2 linked regions of the Homo sapiens genome follow. The protein of the gene in region 1 purifies or fractionates together with the protein of each later gene. This does not show direct contact. Each region holds a gene or a part of one and is shown on either strand. Other genes may lie near its edges. The genes, in order: ACP3 and ATP6AP2.

Region 1 (12,896 bases):
CCAGGTACATTATGGATTTCTTTCCAATCTTCTCATTTCATGAGGGTTTTTGATCATCATCCTTATTTATCAGCAAGGTGTGCTATGTGTGCTTTTTTTTTTTCCTTTCTTTCATCTTCTTGTCTTTCCCCTCTGTCTTAGCCCATTTTCTGTTGCTTTAACAGAATACCTGAGACTGGGAAATTTATAAAGGAAAGAGGTTTATTTTGCTCACAATTCTAGAGGTTAGGAAGTCCAAGATCAGGCAGCTGCATCTAGTCAGCTTCTGGTGAGGGCCTTGTGCTGTGTCATAACATGGCAGAAGGCATGACAGGACAAGAAGGGGCACACTGAGAGCCAAAATGGTTTTTATGATAGACTCACTGACATGATAACTCACCCACTTCTGTGATAACCTATTAATCCATTAATCTGTTAATCCATTAATCCATCAGGAGAGTAGAGCCCCCATGGCCCAATCACCTCTTAAAGGCCCCACCTCTTAAGGCTGTTACATTGGGATTAAGTTTCAACATGAGTTTTGGAGGGGACAAACATTCAAATTGTAGCAGTCTCTATCCTATTCATTTGTGCCTTTGCTTCTAGAACAGTGAGTCTGCTTCCAGACTGGATTGAAGTCTCATAAACCATCATGTTCTCCTTTCAGGTTTGGAATTGGAGACACATCATAAAACTTTGGGGTGATTCTGGAAGTCCTAAAAGGAACCTTATCTCCTGACATTAAATTCTTCTTATTATTTTATTAGGGTATACTCTAAGTTGTGAAAATCTCGTGATGCACAAAGATAACTATGAGTAGAAGTCTATTTTATTTTCTTCTTTTAGGACCTAAGAAATAAATCCATTGGTAAAGAAAATTAAAAATAAAATAGTTTGGGCAGAAATAATTGAGTAATGTAAATGAGTGTCATTTCAGAGGTTAGAAGGAAAGCTGGCTGACCTTGAAAGGAATCAGCATGAGAATATGTTCTGTACTCCCCGTGAAGCAATCAGGACAAGTCTAATAAGACTTTGATCCAGAGACTGGGACGAACACAGAGGCCTGCAAATAAGGGAAGCTGTAAAAACTGTGTATTATGTTGTGTAGAAGATGTGTGATATATCAGAAAAGGTCTGGGTTTTCAGTTGGTTAGACCTGGGTTCAAACTCCTGCTTTGTCAAGGTCCTGCTGGGTGACCTTGGGAAAATGATTTAACTTAACATTCTGCATGCCTCAATTTCCCTTTCCTTTCCTCAATTTCCTTTCGTGTAAAACACAAAAGCATTATTTCTCATCCAGGAGCATCATGAAAATTAAATGTGTAATATATGTAAAGCCATCAGTATAATACCGAGCACACCGGATGCATTTGATATGTGGGATTTATTATTATATTTGTTATAATTATTTTTGTTGTTATATTATTCAGACATTTAGCTTAGCTAACATATATACTTCCTTTCCTGCTGACAATAATTTGCAGCATATAGGGCAAATGAGCACTACCTATTGAGCAATGGGAAACAGCACTCTCCTTCGAGACATACCTCTGTTAATTTCTAATCATCTCTCCCTACTTTTATTTCCTTGGCTGAGAGGAATAATTAATTATTCCTTTGCATTTAGGATACTGAGAAGCACCCACAGGAATAACCTGGTTGGCTGAAATGTCTTGGCCAAATGCACCCTGAAAATTTGTGAAATGCATTGGCATAAATCTGGGGAGAAGCTCATGTAAGCAAACTGAACTGAGCCTGGCTCAGTACCAACTCTCAGCGCACGGTGCTGTTTCCGGCAAATGTCTTTGAAAAACCTGTGGTCTCCAGACAGCTTGGCTGTTCCTTGGATACAGTGATTAGGAGCCATACAGCAAGGGAGAGAGATTGTATGTAAGGTTGTTTGTGAACTGAGGCAGGAGACCTGATTTTTGCTTTTCAGTGGAATTTTATCTGGTCCATCTTTTTTTTTTTTCTTTTTTGCAGAGATGAGGTCTTACTATGTTAACCAGCCTGGAGTCTTGCACTCCTGGCCTCAAGCAATCCTTCTGTTTCGGCTTTCCAAAGTGCTGGGATTACAGGTGTGAGTTGCTGCACCCAGCCTCTGGTACCTCTTTTTATAAGCCAACCCAAGCGACAGGGTTTTTCCCTGTTGTCCAGGCTGGAGTGCAATGGTGTGATCCTAGCTCAATGTGGCCTCACACTGCTGTGCTCAAGTGATCCTCTAGCTCCACCTTCCCTAGTAGCTAGGAGGTCCTTCATGTCCATAATGTGGAAGTTACCCATTCCAGTATATAGATTATGTGCTGAGAATTTGGAGGCTGCTTCCATCAAGAATATCATATTATGCCAGGCGCAGTGGCTCACGCCTGTAATCTCAGCCCTTTGGGAGGCCAAGGCTGGTGGATCACCTGAGGTCAAGAGTTCAAGACCAGCCTGGCCAACGTGGTGAAACCCAGTCTCTATTAAAAATACAAAAACTAGCCAGGCATGGTGGCACACGCCTGTAATCCCAGCTACTTGGGAGGCTGAGACTGGAGAATCACTTGAACCTGGGAGACGGAGGTTGCAGTGAGCCAAGATCACGCCATTGCACTCCAGCCTGGGCGACAGAGTAAGACTCTGTCTCAAAAAAAAAAAAAAAACCCAAGAATATTATATTACTTGATTAAGAATTCTGCATGAAGAAAGTCAACCATGAAGAATGAGAAGAGTGTATACCTTGTAAGTCATCATTCCTTTCTTAACACCGGTGAAATGAGATGGAATTTTTCTGTCTTGGATCAGCTGAACTTGTGGGTTTTCTCTGGGTTAGGGGAGACAGGATGCTTTAAAATGACATTTTTCTATTTCTGGATGATATGGTGCATGAAATAACTTAAAAAACTCAAGTGGGTGTGTGTGGGAAATGAGTGGCTATGCAGATGAAACAAGATTGCATGGGTGATAGTCTTTGAAGCTGGTTGATGAGGACATCCAGATTCACCATATTTACGATTCTTTCCATATAAAGTTAAAAATGTCAGTTCTCTCAGTGTTTTCTACAGGACATTGGGGAAAAAAAGAGGGAGGTGAATGCTGTAATCAAAATTTTGAAAACAGAGTTTGGAAAACACTAGATCCTTTCCTTGAAAGCCACAGTGCGTATTAGCATGTTAAAGACTTAGGATTACTGCATTAAAGAGACCTTTTAAACACAGTTTAACCCAGTTCTATTCCCAAAGCTAACTTGACTATTGAAACTGATTTTTTCCCCATGTACACCTGTTAACAACTTGTCAAACTAGCATTTCATGGGTCACAGGCACTTCAGTTAGTCCGAGAACAAGAACCAAGGACAGTTTCCTCCTCTTTCTGCTGAGAACAGCTTTTCAGAATTGGGGAGGATTTATTTTTCTCGGATCACAGAGGAAAAGCAAGGGAACCACCTGCTGATTCAGAGTCAAGCTAATCCAGCAAACCTTACAGGGGGATCTCAGACTAGCTCCATGTGCTGGGTTATATACACACAGCAGGAAAAGACCATGTCTAGTGATAAAGGGAAAGGCATCCGGGGTCAGAGAGCCTGGGTTCAAATTCTGTCTCCACCATTCCATCTGTGTGACCATGGGCAAGATGCTTAACCTTTTTGTGCCTCAATTTCTTCATCTATAAAATAGGAATAATAAGTTTTACAAAACTTTATAGAATGGTTGCCAGATTTGGCAAATAAACATACAGGATGCCCAAATATTGCATGGGACTAAAAAATTATTTGCTATTTATCTGAAGTTCAAATTCAAATGGTCATCCCATATTTTATTTAACGACCTTATTTTAGAGGATTGTTGACAGGCTTATGTGATACAATTCATATTGAACACTCAGAACAGTGCCTTGTAAGCACTCAATTGCAGTAAGTACTTGCAGTAAGCACTCAATTGACTATTGGTTATTATCATTAATATTACCACTTTAGTTATGGGCATCTTTTAAAACAATTCTGGTTCTCCTAATAATTTTCTAAGAGTTATCTCATTTGTATAAATTAACCACTTATAGTCAAATATTCTCTTTAGTCAATAAAAATAAGAAACTGATGTTTATTGGCTTAAGTACTTAGATGGACGTTGTTTTATAAGGGCCAAGAAAGATGTATTAAATGGCCCTTCATCTACCATTAATGGAAGGAAATCATGGTAGGAAAAAATAGTTAACACTGGCTTTGTGCAATATTTGTTAATTTTTTTAGTTCTAAGAGAGCTAGCTTTGTATTTTGGCTTTCCTCAGGAAAGAATTAACTTGCAGTCCCTGAATATAGGAAACCCACAACAATTTGGTAGTCAAAGGAAGTTAGCCTGGGCTAACTTGGGTAAAACATGGAGGAGGGAATACATCATGTACAGTGAGCTTGGAGTAACTTGGATTTCTCAGAGGACTGCCACTCAACCAGCTTGTCACAGGTTTACAGTATTACAAGCACGGCAGATGCAGTACAATTTCTACAGTCCCTAAACTTGCCTCATGCACATGTTAGCAAGAAAACTACTGATAGAAGTACAAGCCTAGCTCACATGGGTTTCCCTAAAGAAGGCACACAGTATTATATATTTTTTTTCTGCACAGAAGTCTGACAGCTGGTGAATCATTTGTAAATAAATTGATAGTTTGTTTCACTGGGTTTTCTGTCATTGTTGACTCATGACCTAGTAAGGATTTACTGGACTATAAGAATAATGATTCAAATAAGCACATGGGTATCATATTTTCTGTAGAAAGTAAAGAGCTTTGAATATCCCATGCTGAAAAAAAAAAAAGCCTGAACTTTAATTTTTAAGGAAACAGTGACTTTCCTTCAAATTATAAAAATAATTTTTGAGTATTCTTGACAGAAAGAAAATTTACCTACTTATCAGCCCACTTTCACTATCTCAAATAAAAAAATGTAGGGAAGAGAAAGAAAACGAGAGAGGAAAGGCAAGAAGCAGCTTAGAGGCTTAGAGGCAGAGAAAGAGTGAAACAGAAGGAAAAAAAGATACAGAAACAGAAAATCAGACTCTTAGGTAACATGATGAATCCCCTTCACTTTGCAAACCCTCTTTCCATCTATTTTCAAACAATGTCAACAGTATATTTTCTTTTCTTGATATTATGCATCAGCCACCCCCCACCTTTTTTCATAACTGGTCACATGTGCCAATGATTTTAATCGTCAACTAAATCTATATATCAGAAAATCATCCTAAAATTCCAAATTTAGATTCACTTTTATGCTTCAAGGTTGTTTACAAATAGTTGTTCTAATTTCCTGATAAACAAAGGTGAAAGGACTACTTAATTCAGAAAATGACTGTTTTTTGGCTTGCAAACAAATAATGATTAAATTGAATGAAGCCAGCTCTTGGTACATAAACAGCGCCAGCTGTGGTTTCTTCTGGACTGGTGTGGCTGTCAAAAGGAATCTGAATTCAAGGCAGTTGTAAAGTAAGTAAATAAATAACATCAGCAAAAGCAAATAAAAAGCAACCCCTAAAAAAACAGCGACCAAAAAATATTTTTGTTAGGACACGTTAGGTCTTCATTAAGAGGAACTTGCAAAACTTGATTATTCACTTTCTGAGTTTGAACAGAGCCTGGTCTCTGGGAAACAATCCAAGGATAAGATGAAACCTGACGCTTGCCTTATCAGACTTTGCTGGGAACACAGTTTTAAGGAAAAAGCAATGAGAAAAGTCTACTTACCAAAGTCACAAACTTCAACTCCTTGGCTAGTACACTTCGGTCTAGCCAGAAAAAAAGCAGAAACAAGAAGCCAAGGCTAAGGCTTGCTGCCCTGGCCAGGAGGAGGGGTGCAGCTCTCATGTTGAGGAGAGCTGTTTCTGGCAGGAGTTAGGAGGAACTGCTACCACTTCAAAAGCCTGTAGAGGGGAAGCTATTTAATTAAGGGATTGAAAGGGAAGGAGGAGCCACACTCATAAGTAGTAAAGTTTCCAGGAAGCGTAGGGCAGGTTTGGTATGTAAATAATGTCATGTAAATTTTGAGCTGAGAGAGATCACAGTTTCCCCATTTAAGTTAGGACACCAAGGCCAAGAGCGGGGAAAGCTGTTGATCAAGGTCACAGAGCATGTTAGCAGACATTTCTATCCTTGTTTTCAGTTTACTTTTATCTTTGTTTTTTGTTTTTTTTTTTTTGAGACAGAGTCTTGCTCTGTCATCCAGGCTGGAGCACAGTGGCACAATCTCAGCTCACTGCAAACTCCGCCTCCCAGGTTCAAGCAATTCTCCTGCTTCAGTCTTCCTGAGTAGCTGGGATTACAGGCGTGCACCACCACACCCGGCGAATTTTTGTATTTTTAGTAGAGACGGGGTTTCACCATGTTGGTTAGGCTGGTCTCCAACTCCTAACCGCATGATCCGCCTGCCTTGGCCTCCCAAAGTGCTGAGATTACAGGCATGAGCCACTGTGCCAAGCCAGTTTACTTTTATCTTTTCTTTAGATAGGGTATGATACAGCGTTGGATTTGTGGCTGTCACTTGGGAAAGGGATCTACCCTGACTTTAGAAACCTTAGACCAGTGATTCTTAATCTGTTGGGAGTCCAAAGTTATAGGACTGAAATCTGGAAGGAAATACAGGTGTTGACATATTTGGGGCCTATTTCCATGCCAAACATGGCTACTTTTTCAAAAACTCTCATGTAGCCTATAGAGGTATTTTTAAATTAAAGAAGAAAAGTAACAGCAAGTTTATTTTGAAAAATTTTAGGCTGGGCGTGGTGGCTCATGTCTGTAATCCCAGCACTTTGGGAGGCCGAGGTGGGCAGATCACTTGAGGTCAGGAGTTAAGACCAGCCTGGCCAGCATGGTGAAACCCCATCTCTACTAAAAATACAAAAAAAAAAAATTAGCCTGGCGTGGTGGCACATGCCTATAGTCCCAGCTACCTGGGAGGCGAGGCAGGAGAGTCACTTGAACCCAGGAGGTGGAGGTTGCAGTGAGCCGAGATTGTGCCACTGCACTCCAGCCTGAGTGACAGAGCAAGACTCCATCTCAAAACACAGCAAAACAAACAAACAACAACAAAAAACAAACAAAAGAAAAATTTTAGTCACACCTTAAGACAATTGGACATTACCTGTGGTATCTCAAAATTAGATTGGAGGTCCCTTTCCAAACCTGACAGAGTTTTTTAAGAAAGCAAAAAGCCCAAACCTACAATTCTATATTATTAGTCATCAACTTTGGCCATAAGCCTTAAATTTTGAGTGAGTTACATCCTTGCCTCTCCAGCTATGATCTCACTGGGGACACTACAAAAGGCGATCCAGACTGATGGAACTTTGCTTTCCATTTTCCCCAACCTGTCAGTTCCATCATAGGCTAAAACAATACAAACTTGAGGTGCACATTGAGATTTTGCAAGATTTGGGGGCAGAGCTGCCTGTCATGATATTTCTATCATAATGGCAGAGGGAGAACAATGGTTTACCCGCAACCTGTTTCCTGGTACATTGCGCTTACCTGTGGCAGGAGGATTGTGTTCTTATGTGATCATAGGATGCCCTGGAATGTGGTATATGGGAGAACTGTTCCTTCTTCCGGCAGTAGGAAACATGCGCAAATAGGCTGGGCATGGTGGCTCACGCCTGTAATCCCACCACTTTGGGAGGCTGAGGTGGGCAGATCACTTGAGATCAGGAGTTCGAGACCAGCCTGGTCAATGTGGTGAAACCCCATATCTACTAAAAATACAAAAATTAGCCAGGTGTGGTGGTGGGAGCCTGTAATCCCAGCTACCTGGGAGGCTGGGGCAGGAGAATCACTTGAATCCGGGAGGCTGAGGTTGCAGTGAGCTGAGATCACACCACTGCACTCTAGCCTGGGCAATAGAGTGAGACTCTGTCCCCCCTCCAAAAAAAAAAAAAAATGTGCAAATAATAAATGCATGTGTGATTAGGATTAACCATTCAAGGGAACTTGCAACTTTCTCTTTGCCATCACATTCTCGACCTGCCAGTCTACACTGTCAATTTTAATGAGTAAGATTTTGAGGAAATGGGTGCAAGAAAAAGGAAATAAAAATTGGGAGGTTTTCCAGTCCAGGGCATACATGAAGTTGATACATTAATCCCTGCTGTGTGCACCAGGCAATCTGAGAAAGGAAGCTCCAGCACCTATGTACCATTCACAGGCAAATTTCTGAACCACATTTCTTAAATTGTGCCAGATGTCTGCTTCTATTGAATGCCTTATTTTCTCAGCTATCTGCCTGGGTCCTTGTTCTATCTCCTTCCTTGTCTCACCCTTGGACTGGTGCTTGGAACTATTTCAGCAATAGCCTTAGACCTTCCTGATAATGAAGACTGATTTTATAATCTACCTATACCATGTTGCACTGGTTGGATAAACCCTCTTTCTGACCTAGACCCTAATTTTTTCTGTGGTACCGCCTGTGGGGTCCTTTTAGCTCTTCAAGTGAGAAGGGCAACAACAACAAAGTTTTCTTTGAAAACCAGAAAAAGCCTGCTTGAATTGAATACATCTCAACTCAAACTTAATCCAAGTTGAATTAAATGGTTTATACTTCTATCTCAATCATCATCCTCACTTCCACTTTGATCATTCAGTTATAAGGGGAGAAGAAGTATTCAAAGTCATAAATGTAGAGTCTTGAAAAACCTGAACACCATGAAATGGAGTGTAAAAGATCCTCAACTCAGATGAAACCTGTTTTAGAATGTTCTGTGGCACCTTGAACTTTGAACTCAATAAGGTCTTTGCAAAGACATAAGGGTCATCTGGGATAAATATATGGATATAGTATGTATTAGTCCACGTTCATACTGCTTTGAAGAAATACCTAAGACTGGGTAATTTATAAAGAAAAATAAATTTAATGGACTCAAAGTTCCACATGGCTGGGGAGGCCTCACAATCATGATGGAAGGTGAAGGAGAAGCAAAGGCACATCTTACATGGCAGCAGGCAAGAGAGTGTGTGCAGGGAAACTGCCCTTTATAAAACCATCAGATTTCATGAGACTTAATCACTGTCACAAGAATAGCATGGGAAAAGCCCTCCTCCACGATTCAATTACTTCCCACCAGGTACCTTTCATGACATGTGGGGATTATGGGAGTTACAATTCAAGATGAGATTTTTGTGGGGACACTGCCAAATCATATCATAGTAACATCAAAAGTGAGATTTGAAAAAACACTGGGAAGTCTTTATGTAAGAGTTTAGGGTGTCAATAATTTTCCATGATTAGTAGGACTTACTGACTGAATCACTTGTGTTCTCTTGTTGTACTTCTTTCTCTATATGTCAAGTGCTCAACCTCAAATGAACTGTTCTAATGAACAGTTAGAAAGTTCCATAAGTGGAGCAGGTTAGGATTTTTGAAAATCAGACTCCCAGATAGATATTTGCATGTAGGAAGTTTATTAAGGAGTGCACTCAGGATTAACTCCAGTGGTGGGTAGAGAAATAACCAAGGTTGGGCAGAGGGAGAAGTTGATTTGTAATGCAATATTGTTGAAGATGTCAGCTGACCCTGTTACAAGTTCTGAAGATAGGAGGGCCTTTCAGGGTTGTCTTGAATTGAGGTGAGGAGCCAGGCCTTTTTTATTAGCCAGTCATTGGACGTAGTCTGCCCCTGGTAGGGAGTATGACCATGGATAAGGCAAAGGTGACTCTCTTCTGCCAAAATAATTCCCAAAGGGGTTGCTAGCTGAGTGATGTCAAACAAATTTCCAAGAGCTAGGAGCAATGAATCCTTGGGCAGTGTAACACAGAATCTATGATGATGAACACTTATAGGAAAAAAATTGTGATCCTTAGTAGATCACAGCCTATGAAAGCACTAAATATGCCTCTGACCATAAGAGTCTGAGTTGGGAGGTGAGATCCATCAGTAAGTATATGGCTGTTCACCAGCATCACAAGGAAGACTGTGTTTAACCTGTCTGGCTTCTTATGGCCTTCATAATTGTATTATTTGACTCTCAGGGCCTTATGAACTATTGGGTACTCAATAATACTGATTGACCAACTGTCAATATAAATGCAAATGACTGCATCAGAGCCCTGTTACAATGTGAATTGCTTTGAGGCAAAATTTAATAAGATGGCTTTAGAATAAATGTTCTCCTCTTCTCAAACCATCATTTTGTGGAGGGCCTTTTTGCCCTCGGCATAAAATAACTATTTTATTGTTTAGTATTTAGACAAACATCCCCCATAAAACCAAAGACTGTATCATAAGAATGTCATCAACTAAGGTGTGTGTACCTAGGGGATTCATGCAATGGTCTAACACTTTAAAAAGTAAAGAAAGTGTTAAAACTTTTATTTCTGTTTATTTTTTTACCTAAGAAAGAAAAAAAAGATTTACAATGGAAATTTATTCACAATGGACTGTTTTAAAATGGGCTATTATTTGGCCATTAAAAAAAGATCCAAGTACTGATACCTGCTACAACATGGATGAACCTTTAAAATATTAGGTTGATATTCCTTCTAAAATAGAACACATATTTGTATGATTCCACTTGTATTAAATGTTCAGAATAGAAAGATCTTAGGAAACAGCCTAAGATTTTTTAAAGATTGCTTAGGACACGGAGAAAGGAGGCGGAGGGTGATGATGGCTGAGGGGTATGTGGTCTCTTTTTGGGCTGCTAAAAATAGTCTAAAATTGATTGTAATGATACTTGCACAACTCTGACTATACTAAAAACTATTGAATTGTACACTTTAAATGAATGAATTTTATGACATCTGAATTATATTTCAATAAAGCTGTTATCTAAATAATTTACCACAAAATAAATATTCCAATATTTAATATAAGCATGGCAATAGAAGTATATCCTTAATAAATGAACACATATCTATTACTTGTAATACTGATGGAGTCCATGGTTGAACCAGTTTAAACATTACTGAATAAAATTAATATTAATTATAAAATATAATTTATATATATATATAAACTTAGAGTATTAAAATTATCTATTGCTGTGAAACAAATGAACACAAACTTAGTGGCTTAAAACAACACACATTTCTTATCTTACCTTTTTCCTGAATCAGGAGTCTAAGTATAACGTAAAAGGCCTTTTTGCTCAGGATTTTTCACAAGGCTCCAATCAAGGTGTTAGCCAGGCCTGGGATCCTGTCCCAGCTCCTGTGGTTGTTGGCAGGAATCAGTTCCTTGCAAGCTGTTTGGGGGCCCCAGTTCCTAAATTGCTGGCTGCTGCGTAGAAGCTGCCTTCAATTCCTTGCTACTTGGGCCCCTCCAAGAGGGCTGTTTGAGTCATCAGAACATGCAAACTAAGGCAACAGAGAAACTTCAGAGATCATCTTTCCAGGACTTCATAAAATTTATCATGTGTAAGGATTACCCAAAGAGTTTAATAAAAAACAGACTTCTCCTGGGCCTCACTCCTGGAAATTCTGATTCAGTGGGTTCAGGTAAGATGAGGAATGATGTCCCACTAATACTTAATGGTGCCTAAGGCAAAAGGCAAAAATCATTAAACCAATCCTGTCATTACATAAAATTTTGATATGTTGTTTATTATGGATTGTTTAACATTAATTTTTATTTTTCAAAATTTTGCATTAAAATATTCCTTCTTTTGATTATAGGTTTTTGGTACACCTTAAGTGTTGAGCCCAAGGAGAATGCCTCACTCACCTCACACTAATTCCCAGCCGTGACTCTAAGAATTGGAAGCTGGAGATAACATACTTTTTCCTTTTGAGATGAAATGATCTAACTTTCTCTGATTCTCTCTACGAGGAAATGCAGGCTTGGGTGAGGTGAATCCAGCTTTGGCTGACTGTACTGAGGCACTCAGGACTGAATGGGACTCAGGACTTTTTGTCTTTTAGACTGAACAGAGCTGACCTCTAGCTACTCCTCGGACTGTCATTACTTGCATAGAGCTAGCCCCCTCATGCTTCATGTGTGTAACAAAGCTGCTTTTCTCACAGTCAGGAGGCAAACATTGGCCTATTACTATTTCACCTTTAATACAGGCTTACAGAATGAACTTACAAAAATATGATGTAATCTCATTTTGTATAAATGTGTATCAAAGAAAAGACAGAATAGAGATGGGCCAATATTTTTAATGGTGATTTTTTTGGGGGGTTGATGGGATTATATGTGTTTTCATTTTCTTTCTTCTACTTTTCTCTACTTTCCAAATGTCTTATAATGAATAGATATTTTAATTAAAATCAGAAAACAAATTGTAAAATATCTAGCATTAACTTCATGATAATTCTCATTTGAGTGAGTATCAGAGTTATAGAAGGTAGGCCTAGAAAGCAATTCGCTTCATAACACTGTTCACCTGTCTTCACATGGGCCAACTTCTAAGCCATTGAAGAGAGAACTTTTTCTATCTTCTGCTCCAGTTTCTGACCCTGTCCCTCTCCGCTTTTGTTTGATATGTCTTATATTAAACAGATAACTTCTTGTAGTAGCATGAAAGTACAAGAAAACACAATAACTATTTAGAAAGTCCTGTTTGTCCTTAAGAACTTCTTAAATCAAACCAGGTCAATGGCCTATTAAACATATTCCACCACACTTAGAATAAAATCCAAAGCCCTCCATGGTATATAAGCTCTGCTTATATTTGGCTCCTATGACCTCTTCAACTCACCTCCCATCAGGCTTCTTTTGCTTACTCCATTCTAGCCACACTGATCCCTTATGTCTCAAACGAGCCACATGTGCTTCCACTTGATGCACTTTGCATTGACTGTTCCCTCTGAGGGAACACTCTTCCATCAGATGGGCTGATTCTCTCACTTCACCTCTTTGGATGGCTTTCCTTGAGCACCCCAGTTAAAAGAGCAGCTTCCCCAGCAATCTCTATCATACTGCAGCAGGACAAGCTGCACACAAAACCCCTCAGACA
Region 2 (8,967 bases), on another chromosome or scaffold:
AATGGAGCTATGACCTGTTGTAGTAATTGGCTGCTTATGTGATTGTAGGGGGCGGGAGGGTCTAGATCCAGTCAATGTGAGAGATCGAAAGGTAAGGGCTCAGAAGAAAGGAAATACAGCTTGCTCGGTGCTATCATCTCCTTCTCTTTGTAAGTCTGGTGCTTTTGATGTGGTCTCTAGATATATATCATCAGTCACTGAAAGGAACTTTTCTCCAAATCCTGAGCACCCTTGAAAACAGAAACTCTACCTGGGAACTGCTTCACTGCCAGGCCTAAGGGCAGAGCCCCTGAGCTTTTTGTAGTCTTTGGGCAACCAAAGTGAACAGGATTGGTTGTTTACATTTAAGGATGAAATTTGTACCTAGTTATTTTTTTAGAGACAGGGTCTGGCTGTGTCACCCAAGCTGAGTTTGAGTCTGCATGACTCACTGCAGCCTCAAACTCCAGGGCCCAAGTGATCTTCCTGCCTCAGCCTCCTGCCTCAGCCTTCTGAGTAGCTAGGACTACAGATGCATGCCATCACGCCTAGCTGATTTTTTAATTTTTTGTAGAGACAGGGTCTCGCTATGTTGTCCAGGCTGGTAGGTCTTTAACTCCTGGCCTCAAGCAATCCTTTCTGCGTCAGCCTCCCAAAGTGCTGGGATTACAGGCACGAGCCACCACACCCAGCCTGTACCTAATTCTTTTTTTGTTTTGTTTTGTTTTGTTTTTTGCTACAGGGTCCCGCTCTATCACCCAAGCTAGAGTGCAGTGGCCTGATCTCGGCTTACTGCAACCTCCACCTCCCAGGTTCAAGAGATTCTCCCACCTCAGCCTCCCCGGTAGCTGGGACCACAGGCGTACAACACCATGCCCAGATCATTTTTATATTTTTTGTAGAGACAGGATTTTGCCATGTTGCTCAGGCTGGTCTTGAACTCCTGGACACAAGGAATCTACCTGCTTCAGCCTCCCAAAGTGCTGAGATGACAGGCGTGAACACCACACCTGACCATCTAGTTCTTTACAACCTTAAACTTGACTACTGATGGCTATTAAAATAACTGAGAAATAATTATTAGTAAACTAATGATAGTTACTTTTAGTAGGAATTGTTTTATTTATAAAGATCTTAGTCTAAAGAGGATGTTTTAATGACCATCTTGCTATGTCTCTGTGAAAGATAAAAGTGATGCTGTATATGAGGGCAAAAAATGATGTGGGGGAAGAAAATTTCCATGGCTACATGAAGAAAATATTTTGTGATCTGAAATTTGAAAGGTACCTATGTTTTGTTTACTTGCTTGCTTTTTTCCACAAAAGGTGTCAGATGACTTACTATTGGACTTTATTTCAAATCTGTAAAATTTTAAGAAAATGAAGAGGGTAGAAATCAGCATTCTTGATTAGGGGATTGCAACGACTGCCACAAATAAAATGTTTACTTTCCCTGTGAATTTTCCTTGTCAGTGTCATCTCAGAACCCCTTAACTCTGCTTATTAGATGTTATTGGGGAGGTGGGTTCCTGAGTTGATAATTAAGCACCGCTTTGTGCTTTTCAATGTTTAGGACCTTTCTTGGCCAGGACTCGCAGTGGGTAACCTGTTTCATCGTCCTCGGGCTACCGTCATGGTGATGGTGAAGGGAGTGAACAAACTGGCTCTACCCCCAGGCAGTGTCATTTCGTACCCTTTGGAGAATGTGAGTATTTATTATAAAAAATTAAAGGGATGCATTTTACATTTTCCCTTGTCAGCTGTCATTATGAATTGCATTCTAAACATACTTCTCTTATCTGTTTTTGATGCACAGTTTCTTTTGAAATTCTTTGACAAACACAATTTCTTTTTAAGAAAATTACATGATGATTGTAATTAACTGAGGCTTGGCTGTTCTCTGTGGATGAGAGTACTGTTTAAGATAAGAGATAGAGAAATTGCCCCACTCAGAATAGCCAGAGGCTTGAAAAAGAGAGCCACTAAAGGAGAAACCAGTTGGGGTTGTATCCTGCTACTGTTTTTTTGGCCATTGTCTTGTCATCTTCCCTGCAGGATTTTACCTCTTTTCGTGTGTAAGGACACTGGAGGCTGCTTGCTGGCTCACTTACTCCTTCACTGGCTATTCAGGCAATGTGGGTGACTGTGCTGATCTAAGAGGCCCTCCTTCCATTATAAGCATATAGAAGTGCTTGAAAGAATGTCACAAAAAACATTTTTACTAGCATAACTAAATTTGAATGCAAGAGGGGGTGATATACACAGGTGTTACATATGGATGGAAAACTCAGAAGCCATAGTGGTGAGCAGAAGCTGACGCTGAAACTGTGTTTCCTGCAGAAAGCCAGGGACTAGAAATGCTGTCAACTTGTTCTTGAAAAGCAGACTAGTAAAACTAGTAAAGCTGGCTTGCTGCCCTTGGCTGTTGGACCCAAAGAGTCCCCTGAGATAAATTAGAATTAGAATTATAGGCTTATGCTGTGCAGAGTGGTTCTTTGCAAATTCACATGACCTGCCCCATAGGGACATCTCCATAGCCAAGGGCTCCTTTGGTCAAATACGGAAGATGAGTGGAATTTACAAAGCACCTGAAGGAAAAAAAATGCCATGAGAAACAGGTGCAACAAACAGAATTCATCTCCTTAGAACTACGGAGAATAGGCCAATTTCCAAGAGATCTAAAAATACATACATTAAAATTGTGAAAAAAAGGGCCAGGCATGGTGGCTCACGCCTGTAATCCCAGCTTTGGGAGGCCAAGATGGGAGGATTGCTTGAGGCCAGGAGTTTGAGACCAGCTTGGTCAACATAGCAAGACCCTATCTCTAGGGGGAAAAAAAAAGAAAGAAAGAGAAAAAATTTGTGAAAAAAAGGAAGGAACAGAAACTATGAGGGAGTTATAAGACATTTTTGATACATGGTGCTTTAGCTGATACTTCAAAATATTTCATAATTTATATTGTGATTCTTTAACCCATGAGTTATGTAGAAGTATTTTTTCCAAATGCATGGGTTTTAAAAAAGTAATTTCTAATTTTTAAATTTCTAAGTTCACTGCATTGTAATACTGTGGTCTATGTGATGCTGAAGTTTTGGGATTTTTTTTTTTTTCAGACTTTCCTGTGGTCGAGTATAGATTATTTCCAAGTACACATGGCATACTTAGAAAAAATTACTGTGCAGTAGTCCACAAGGCAAATCTCAACAAACAATAAAGAATCAGTGTCATATAAACTAACTTCTCTGACCACAATGCAGTTAAATCTGAAAATAATAATAAAATGATATCTTAAAAGGGTATTTGGAGCCCGGCACCATGGCTCACGCCTGTAATCCCAACACTTTGAGAGGCCAAGGCGGGTGAATCACTTGAGGCGAGGAGTCCGAGACCAGCCTGGCCAACATGGCTAAACCCTGTCTCTACTGAAAATACAAAAATTAGCCAGGCGTGGTGGCACGCATCTGTAGTCCCAGCTACTCAGTGGCTGAGGCACGAGAATTACTTGAAACTGGGAGGTGGAGGTTGCAGTGAGCTGGGATTGCGCCACTGCACTCCAGCCTGGGTGACAGAGCGAGACTCCATCTGGGAAAAAAAAAAAGGTATTTGGATCAACATTTCTCCTTTCCCCATCCACCCGTCTCCCCCAGCGTCTTCTAACCATCATTCTACTCTACTTCTATGAGTTCAACTTACAAGTGAGGTCATGTAGTATTTGTCCTTCTATGCCTGGCTTACTTCACTTAACATAATGTCCTCCAGGTTTATCCATGTTGCAAATGACAGTTTCCCGCGCTTTAAAGGCTGTATAGTATTCCATTATGTTTATATACCACATTTTCTTTCTGCTTTTTTCTTTTTTTTTTGAGACAGAATCTTGCTCTGTCGCCCAGGTTGGAGTGCAGTGGCGCAATGTCATCTCACTGCAACTTCTGCCTCCTGGGTTCAAGGGATTCTGGTGTCTCAGCCTCCTGAGTAGCTGGGATTACAGGTGCATGCCACCACGCCCAGCTAATTTTTTGTATTTTTAGTAGAGATGAGGTTTCATCATGTTGGCCAGGCTGGTCTCGAACTCCTGAGCTCAGGTGATCCACCCACCTCAGCCTCCCAGTGGATCTCAGTGCTGGGATTACAGGTGTGAGCCACTGCACCCAGCTGCACATTATCTTTATCCATTCGTTTGATTATGGACACCGAGGTTGCTTCCATCCATATCTTAGAAATTGTAAATAGTGCTGCAGTGAACATGGGAGTGCAGATATCTCTTCAGCATACTGACTTCAATTGCTTTGGATATATATACCCAGAAGTGGGCTTGCTGGATCATGCTTTAGTGATCTATTGCACAAAATGGTGACTATATTAAATAATAATGCATTGTGTATTTCAAAATTGCTAAAGGAGTAGATTTTAGATACTTTTACCACAAAAAAAATATAAGTATGTGAGGTGATGGATTTGTTCATTAGCCTGATTTAATCAGTCTACTTTGTAAACTTATAACAAAACATAACATTGTACCCCATAAATATATACAGTTACTATTTGTCAGTTAAAAATAAAATAAAAAGTATTTGGAAATAGTAACAAACAGAAGATAACAACTCCTCAGATTTAAAGCATATGGAACACCCAGTAGGCAAAAGCCAGATCCACACCTACATACGGTGAAATTGAAGAGTCATCAAGGAAATGGAAAATCTTAAAAGCTGTGAGGGAGAAAAGACACTGTCATTACAAAGGAATGAGAGTAGAAGGAAAGCAAGGAAAATGTAGTGATTGTGTAGTATGAGCTAGGCTGAGTATTATTTGCATTGTCATAATAATGAAATGATGCTGATCAAGTGAAAATTTTGATATAACTATTGGGTAAGAGTGGGGAGATAGAAACAGAAGCAGAGCGCATGGATGGCTCAGCGCATGGATGGGGCAGTGGTTGGTGATGTGAGAGAGCTAAAGCCTCATTTTCTATAATGGATAGTAAATAGACAAGACCTAAAATTGAAAAATCAGGAGATGTAATTTAAGTGTCTTATTTAGAGATGTTAAAAGCAAAAAAAGTCAACAAGAAAAGATAGTTGGAATAGATGCACTCCTAAATAATTCATGGGTTGAGGAGGAAATCACTGTGGAACTTTTTAAATTATTTGGAACTGAGTAACAATGAATGTAGCATTTATTTACAAAATTGGGAGGTGCAGCTAACGTGGTAAGAAAAGGGAAATTTATAGCCTTAAATGCATGTTTTAGACAATTTAGGTTGTCTAAGAATGGAAATTAATGAGCTAAAGAAAGCGGAAGAACTTCAGAGTAAATACACATAAAGTAGAAGGAAGGGAACAATACAGATCAAAAGGCAGATTATTTCACAGGGAGCATTTAAGTCATTTTTTATGTGATTTCTGTGAAAATCATTGCAGAAGATTTTCTTTAAAATTATAAAAATCCAAAATGCCATTTTGAGATTTTTATTAGCATGTAATCCAAAAATAAAGATTTAAAAACAGACTAGCCTCATTTTACATGAGAAGAAGCTGTGCTGTGTGAGGAGCTCATTTTATTGCTTGGCCCTGGTTGGCTGCTCAATGCTTTTCCTAGCAGAAGATGGTAAATGAGATAAAAGATTCAGGGGCAAACCCCACAAAACATAAAAATCAGAGTATCTTAGAATTCCATTTAACGAAGCTTCCATTTGATTAGCTAGCTGTTTTAGTTAGAATTTCAAGTCATACAGGTACAGAAATTTGAGGACAGATATGCATCTCCCTTACAATACAGTGAGAGAAAAACCATCATTCGATATTAAGCAGCCAAGCTTTTTACTTTTTGAGCTTAGCTGCCTATATAATTATTTCTTTTCCTTCATTGGTGTTCATTTGATTCATGAGCTGCTTCAATTTGATCGCTATGGACATGGTTCCTAATCTTCAACTTTCCTGAACCGAGCGCCATTTCACTAAGTGAAGTGAGGCTGGAAAGTTTGCATCATTTGCTCATGTATTCCCCTCACAGCCTGAGGAGGTAAACTCTATGATCGCTAAAGGAAAGCACCTATAGATGATTCAGGGCGGCTGCTAGCAGTATGCTTTTGCAACTTTGAACTCTCTTCCCCCTCTTCACTTACTCATTAACTCATTTTGAGAGAATTTGGGGAAGAGTTAATAAGCATCTTGAGTAAGAGAAAAAAATTATTTCATTTCACAGAATCATAAAATTGATCACTTAATATTGATGCTGGGCCTGGGCATGGTGGCTCACGCCTGTAATCCCAGCACTTTGAGAGGCCAAGGCAGGCAGATCACATCAGGCCAGGAGTTTGAGACTAGCATGGCCAACTTGATGAAACCCCGTCTCTACTAAAAATACAAAAATTAGCCAGGCGTGGTGGTGCGTGCCTGTAATCCCAGCTATTCAGGAGGCTGAGGCAGGAGAATCACTTGTACCTGGGAGGTGGAGGCTGCACTGAGCCGAGATCGCGCCACTGTACTCCAGCCTGGGCAACAGAGTGAGGCTCTGTCTCAAAAAAAAAAAAATGTGATGCTGGGATTTTATCAGTAAGACATAATCACATTGATTTCTGCCTGTATCATATTAGCGTTACTTTGCTACTTGTAAACATGAATCTTTAAGTAGTAAGGGAACTACTGAATGAAAGATCAATGTAAGAAATCTCCATTAAAACAAAAACATGACTGTACTGCTTGTTTTAATACAGTAATACTGGGAATGAAATAATTTTTTTAGGGGAAAAATAACTGTAATTTATTTTTTTAAATCATGTACTGCAAAACAAATCTATGGGGATAGAAGTCAGAATTTTTGTTACCCTTGAGGGTGGAGGTAGTACTTCGAGGGCGCTGATAGTGTTCTGTGTCGATCTGGCTGGGCTACCTGAGTGCATGCATGTGTAAACATTTGTTGAGCTGTTACCCCAAGATTTGTATACTATATTATATGTATTTTGCACTTTAATAAAAAAATTGAAGGAAAAAAGTAGGTCTTATCACCATTGGTTATTTCAATCTAATAATATCAACATGTCCTAAGATAAAGGCTTCAAAAACCTTGTGACATACTTAACACCTTATCTAAGAGTCTTTAGGCTATCTGAAGACAAATGTTAAATCTCATTAAACATTTTTAAAATTTTGAAATGAAAGATGAATTCCATTTTTATTTCAATTAAATTCAATACTCAGATTCCTCTAACCTCTTAAATGCAAATTAAATACTTTATTGTGGAATATGCATTCATCGTGGCACATTTAGTCAATATTGAAACCAAATGTATTGCTGCTTCAAATACATGAATGACCACCAGAAAATGGTTTGTGCTAGATATAGTGTTGTGTCCATCAGGTTTAAGTTATTTTCCACTGAGGCATGATGGGAGATACAGACTTGGCTTACCAGGGGGCTGTTTAATCTTCTGTGCCCTCAAAAGGGCTTGTTTGGAAATGATTTCGGGCTTCTAAATTTCCATAGAAAGTGCTGGAAAAAAGTTTAAGGCTTCTTTTTAAATACCATCTGAATGATTTTTCTTCCCACTTTGGTTCACATAATAATTGCGTTCTTACTCTTAAATTTCAGGCAGTTCCTTTTAGTCTTGACAGTGTTGCAAATTCCATTCACTCCTTATTTTCTGAGGAAACTCCTGTTGTTTTGCAGTTGGCTCCCAGTGAGGAAGTAAGTGATAAGGGTTTTATTCAAGACATTTTAAAAAATAAGCTTTTATTATTTGAAAATTATGAAATGTAATTTTATTATGAAAATATAAAACTAATTTATGAACAATGTTGTCATACCTCTGGGTATTGGAACTAATCTGTAGAATTTGAGCAACTTAAAATTTTCTATTCTTCTTACAGAGAGTGTATATGGTAGGGAAGGCAAACTCAGTGTTTGAAGACCTTTCAGTCACCTTGCGCCAGCTCCGTAATCGCCTGTTTCAAGAAAACTCTGTTCTCAGTTCACTCCCCCTCAATTCTCTGAGTAGGAACAATGAAGTAAGTGCAGTTATTCAATGAATACATGAATATCATTAATTTCCGTCTTTTTAAAAAATAGAGACAGGGTCTCACTCTGTTGTCCAGGCTGGTCTTGAACTCCTGGCCTCAAGCAATCCTGTCTTGGCCTCCCAAAGTGCTGGGATCACAGGCTTGAGCCACTGCATCTGGCCTCCCATTCCTTATACTACTTGAAATTTTGGAAATTTTGCTATTTTAGAAAATGAAAGATTGTGCACATTTACTGCTGGGGTAGATTCTTCTTTAGTGTAATTTTCTTATGACTCTCATGAATAAACTGATCCTTTTTGTGAGTTGAGCTGTGGTAAATAACATCACATTTTAGCACGAGGGTTGCCACCTATTAATTCAAACAAGCCAGAGGTCATAGATCTACTTGGTGACTGGTGGAGCTGTGTGGATCTGGTAACTTGGAAGCCATTGTTCACTGCCTCTGCTGATTTGTTGCCACATTTTTCTCATTCATTCTGGACATTGCAGTGGAGGGAGCCACCTCTACTTTTGACTCCTGTCCTTCAGTTTCTCCATCTGCTCATGCGCCCTCTTAACCATGTGGCATGCCACTTTCGTGGTGGCCTCCCCTTTTTATTTGCTGTGGATGACCAGGGCCATCATCCTTTATTCTCTGATGTGGAAACTATTCAAGGGAAGTGAGCAAACTGGGCCAATGGTAGGATGTCATTGCAGAGTGCCAGGATATCCTGATGCTTTGAAGGAAAACCACTGGAGAACTTGGATGCTTTATCATGGTTTTGCCAAAAATATAGCTATTGAGTGGCAGTCACTGTGCTAGGGAATGGCCATCACCTTTTTGTTAGGAAATAATGTTTTATATGCATTTTCAATTGAAGCAAACATACCAAATGGAAGATAATTATATAAATTCACTTATATGATCAACATTTGTAATATCCTGTGCCTTGCTTGGTAAATGGCAAATAAAGATCTCTGGTGCACATTTAAA

Evidence for each region.
Region 2: the proteins of ACP3 (region 1) and ATP6AP2 purify together in Homo sapiens (affinity purification with mass spectrometry; 2 studies listed by BioGRID and IntAct, with this or other methods). This does not show direct contact.

What each region holds. Positions count from the first base shown.
Region 1 is NC_000003.12:132,310,378-132,323,273, reverse strand, and holds the start of ACP3 (prostatic acid phosphatase isoform PAP precursor), read right to left. Parts: upstream 5,868-12,896; 5' UTR 5,818-5,867; coding exon 5,698-5,817; intron 1-5,697. UniProt on the Homo sapiens protein: A non-specific tyrosine phosphatase that dephosphorylates a diverse number of substrates under acidic conditions (pH 4-6) including alkyl, aryl, and acyl orthophosphate monoesters and phosphorylated proteins.
Region 2 is NC_000023.11:40,589,683-40,598,649, forward strand, and holds part of ATP6AP2 (renin receptor precursor), read left to right. Parts: intron 1-1,551; coding exon 1,552-1,683; intron 1,684-7,566; coding exon 7,567-7,662; intron 7,663-7,844; coding exon 7,845-7,982; intron 7,983-8,967. UniProt on the Homo sapiens protein: Multifunctional protein which functions as a renin, prorenin cellular receptor and is involved in the assembly of the lysosomal proton-transporting V-type ATPase (V-ATPase) and the acidification of the endo-lysosomal system.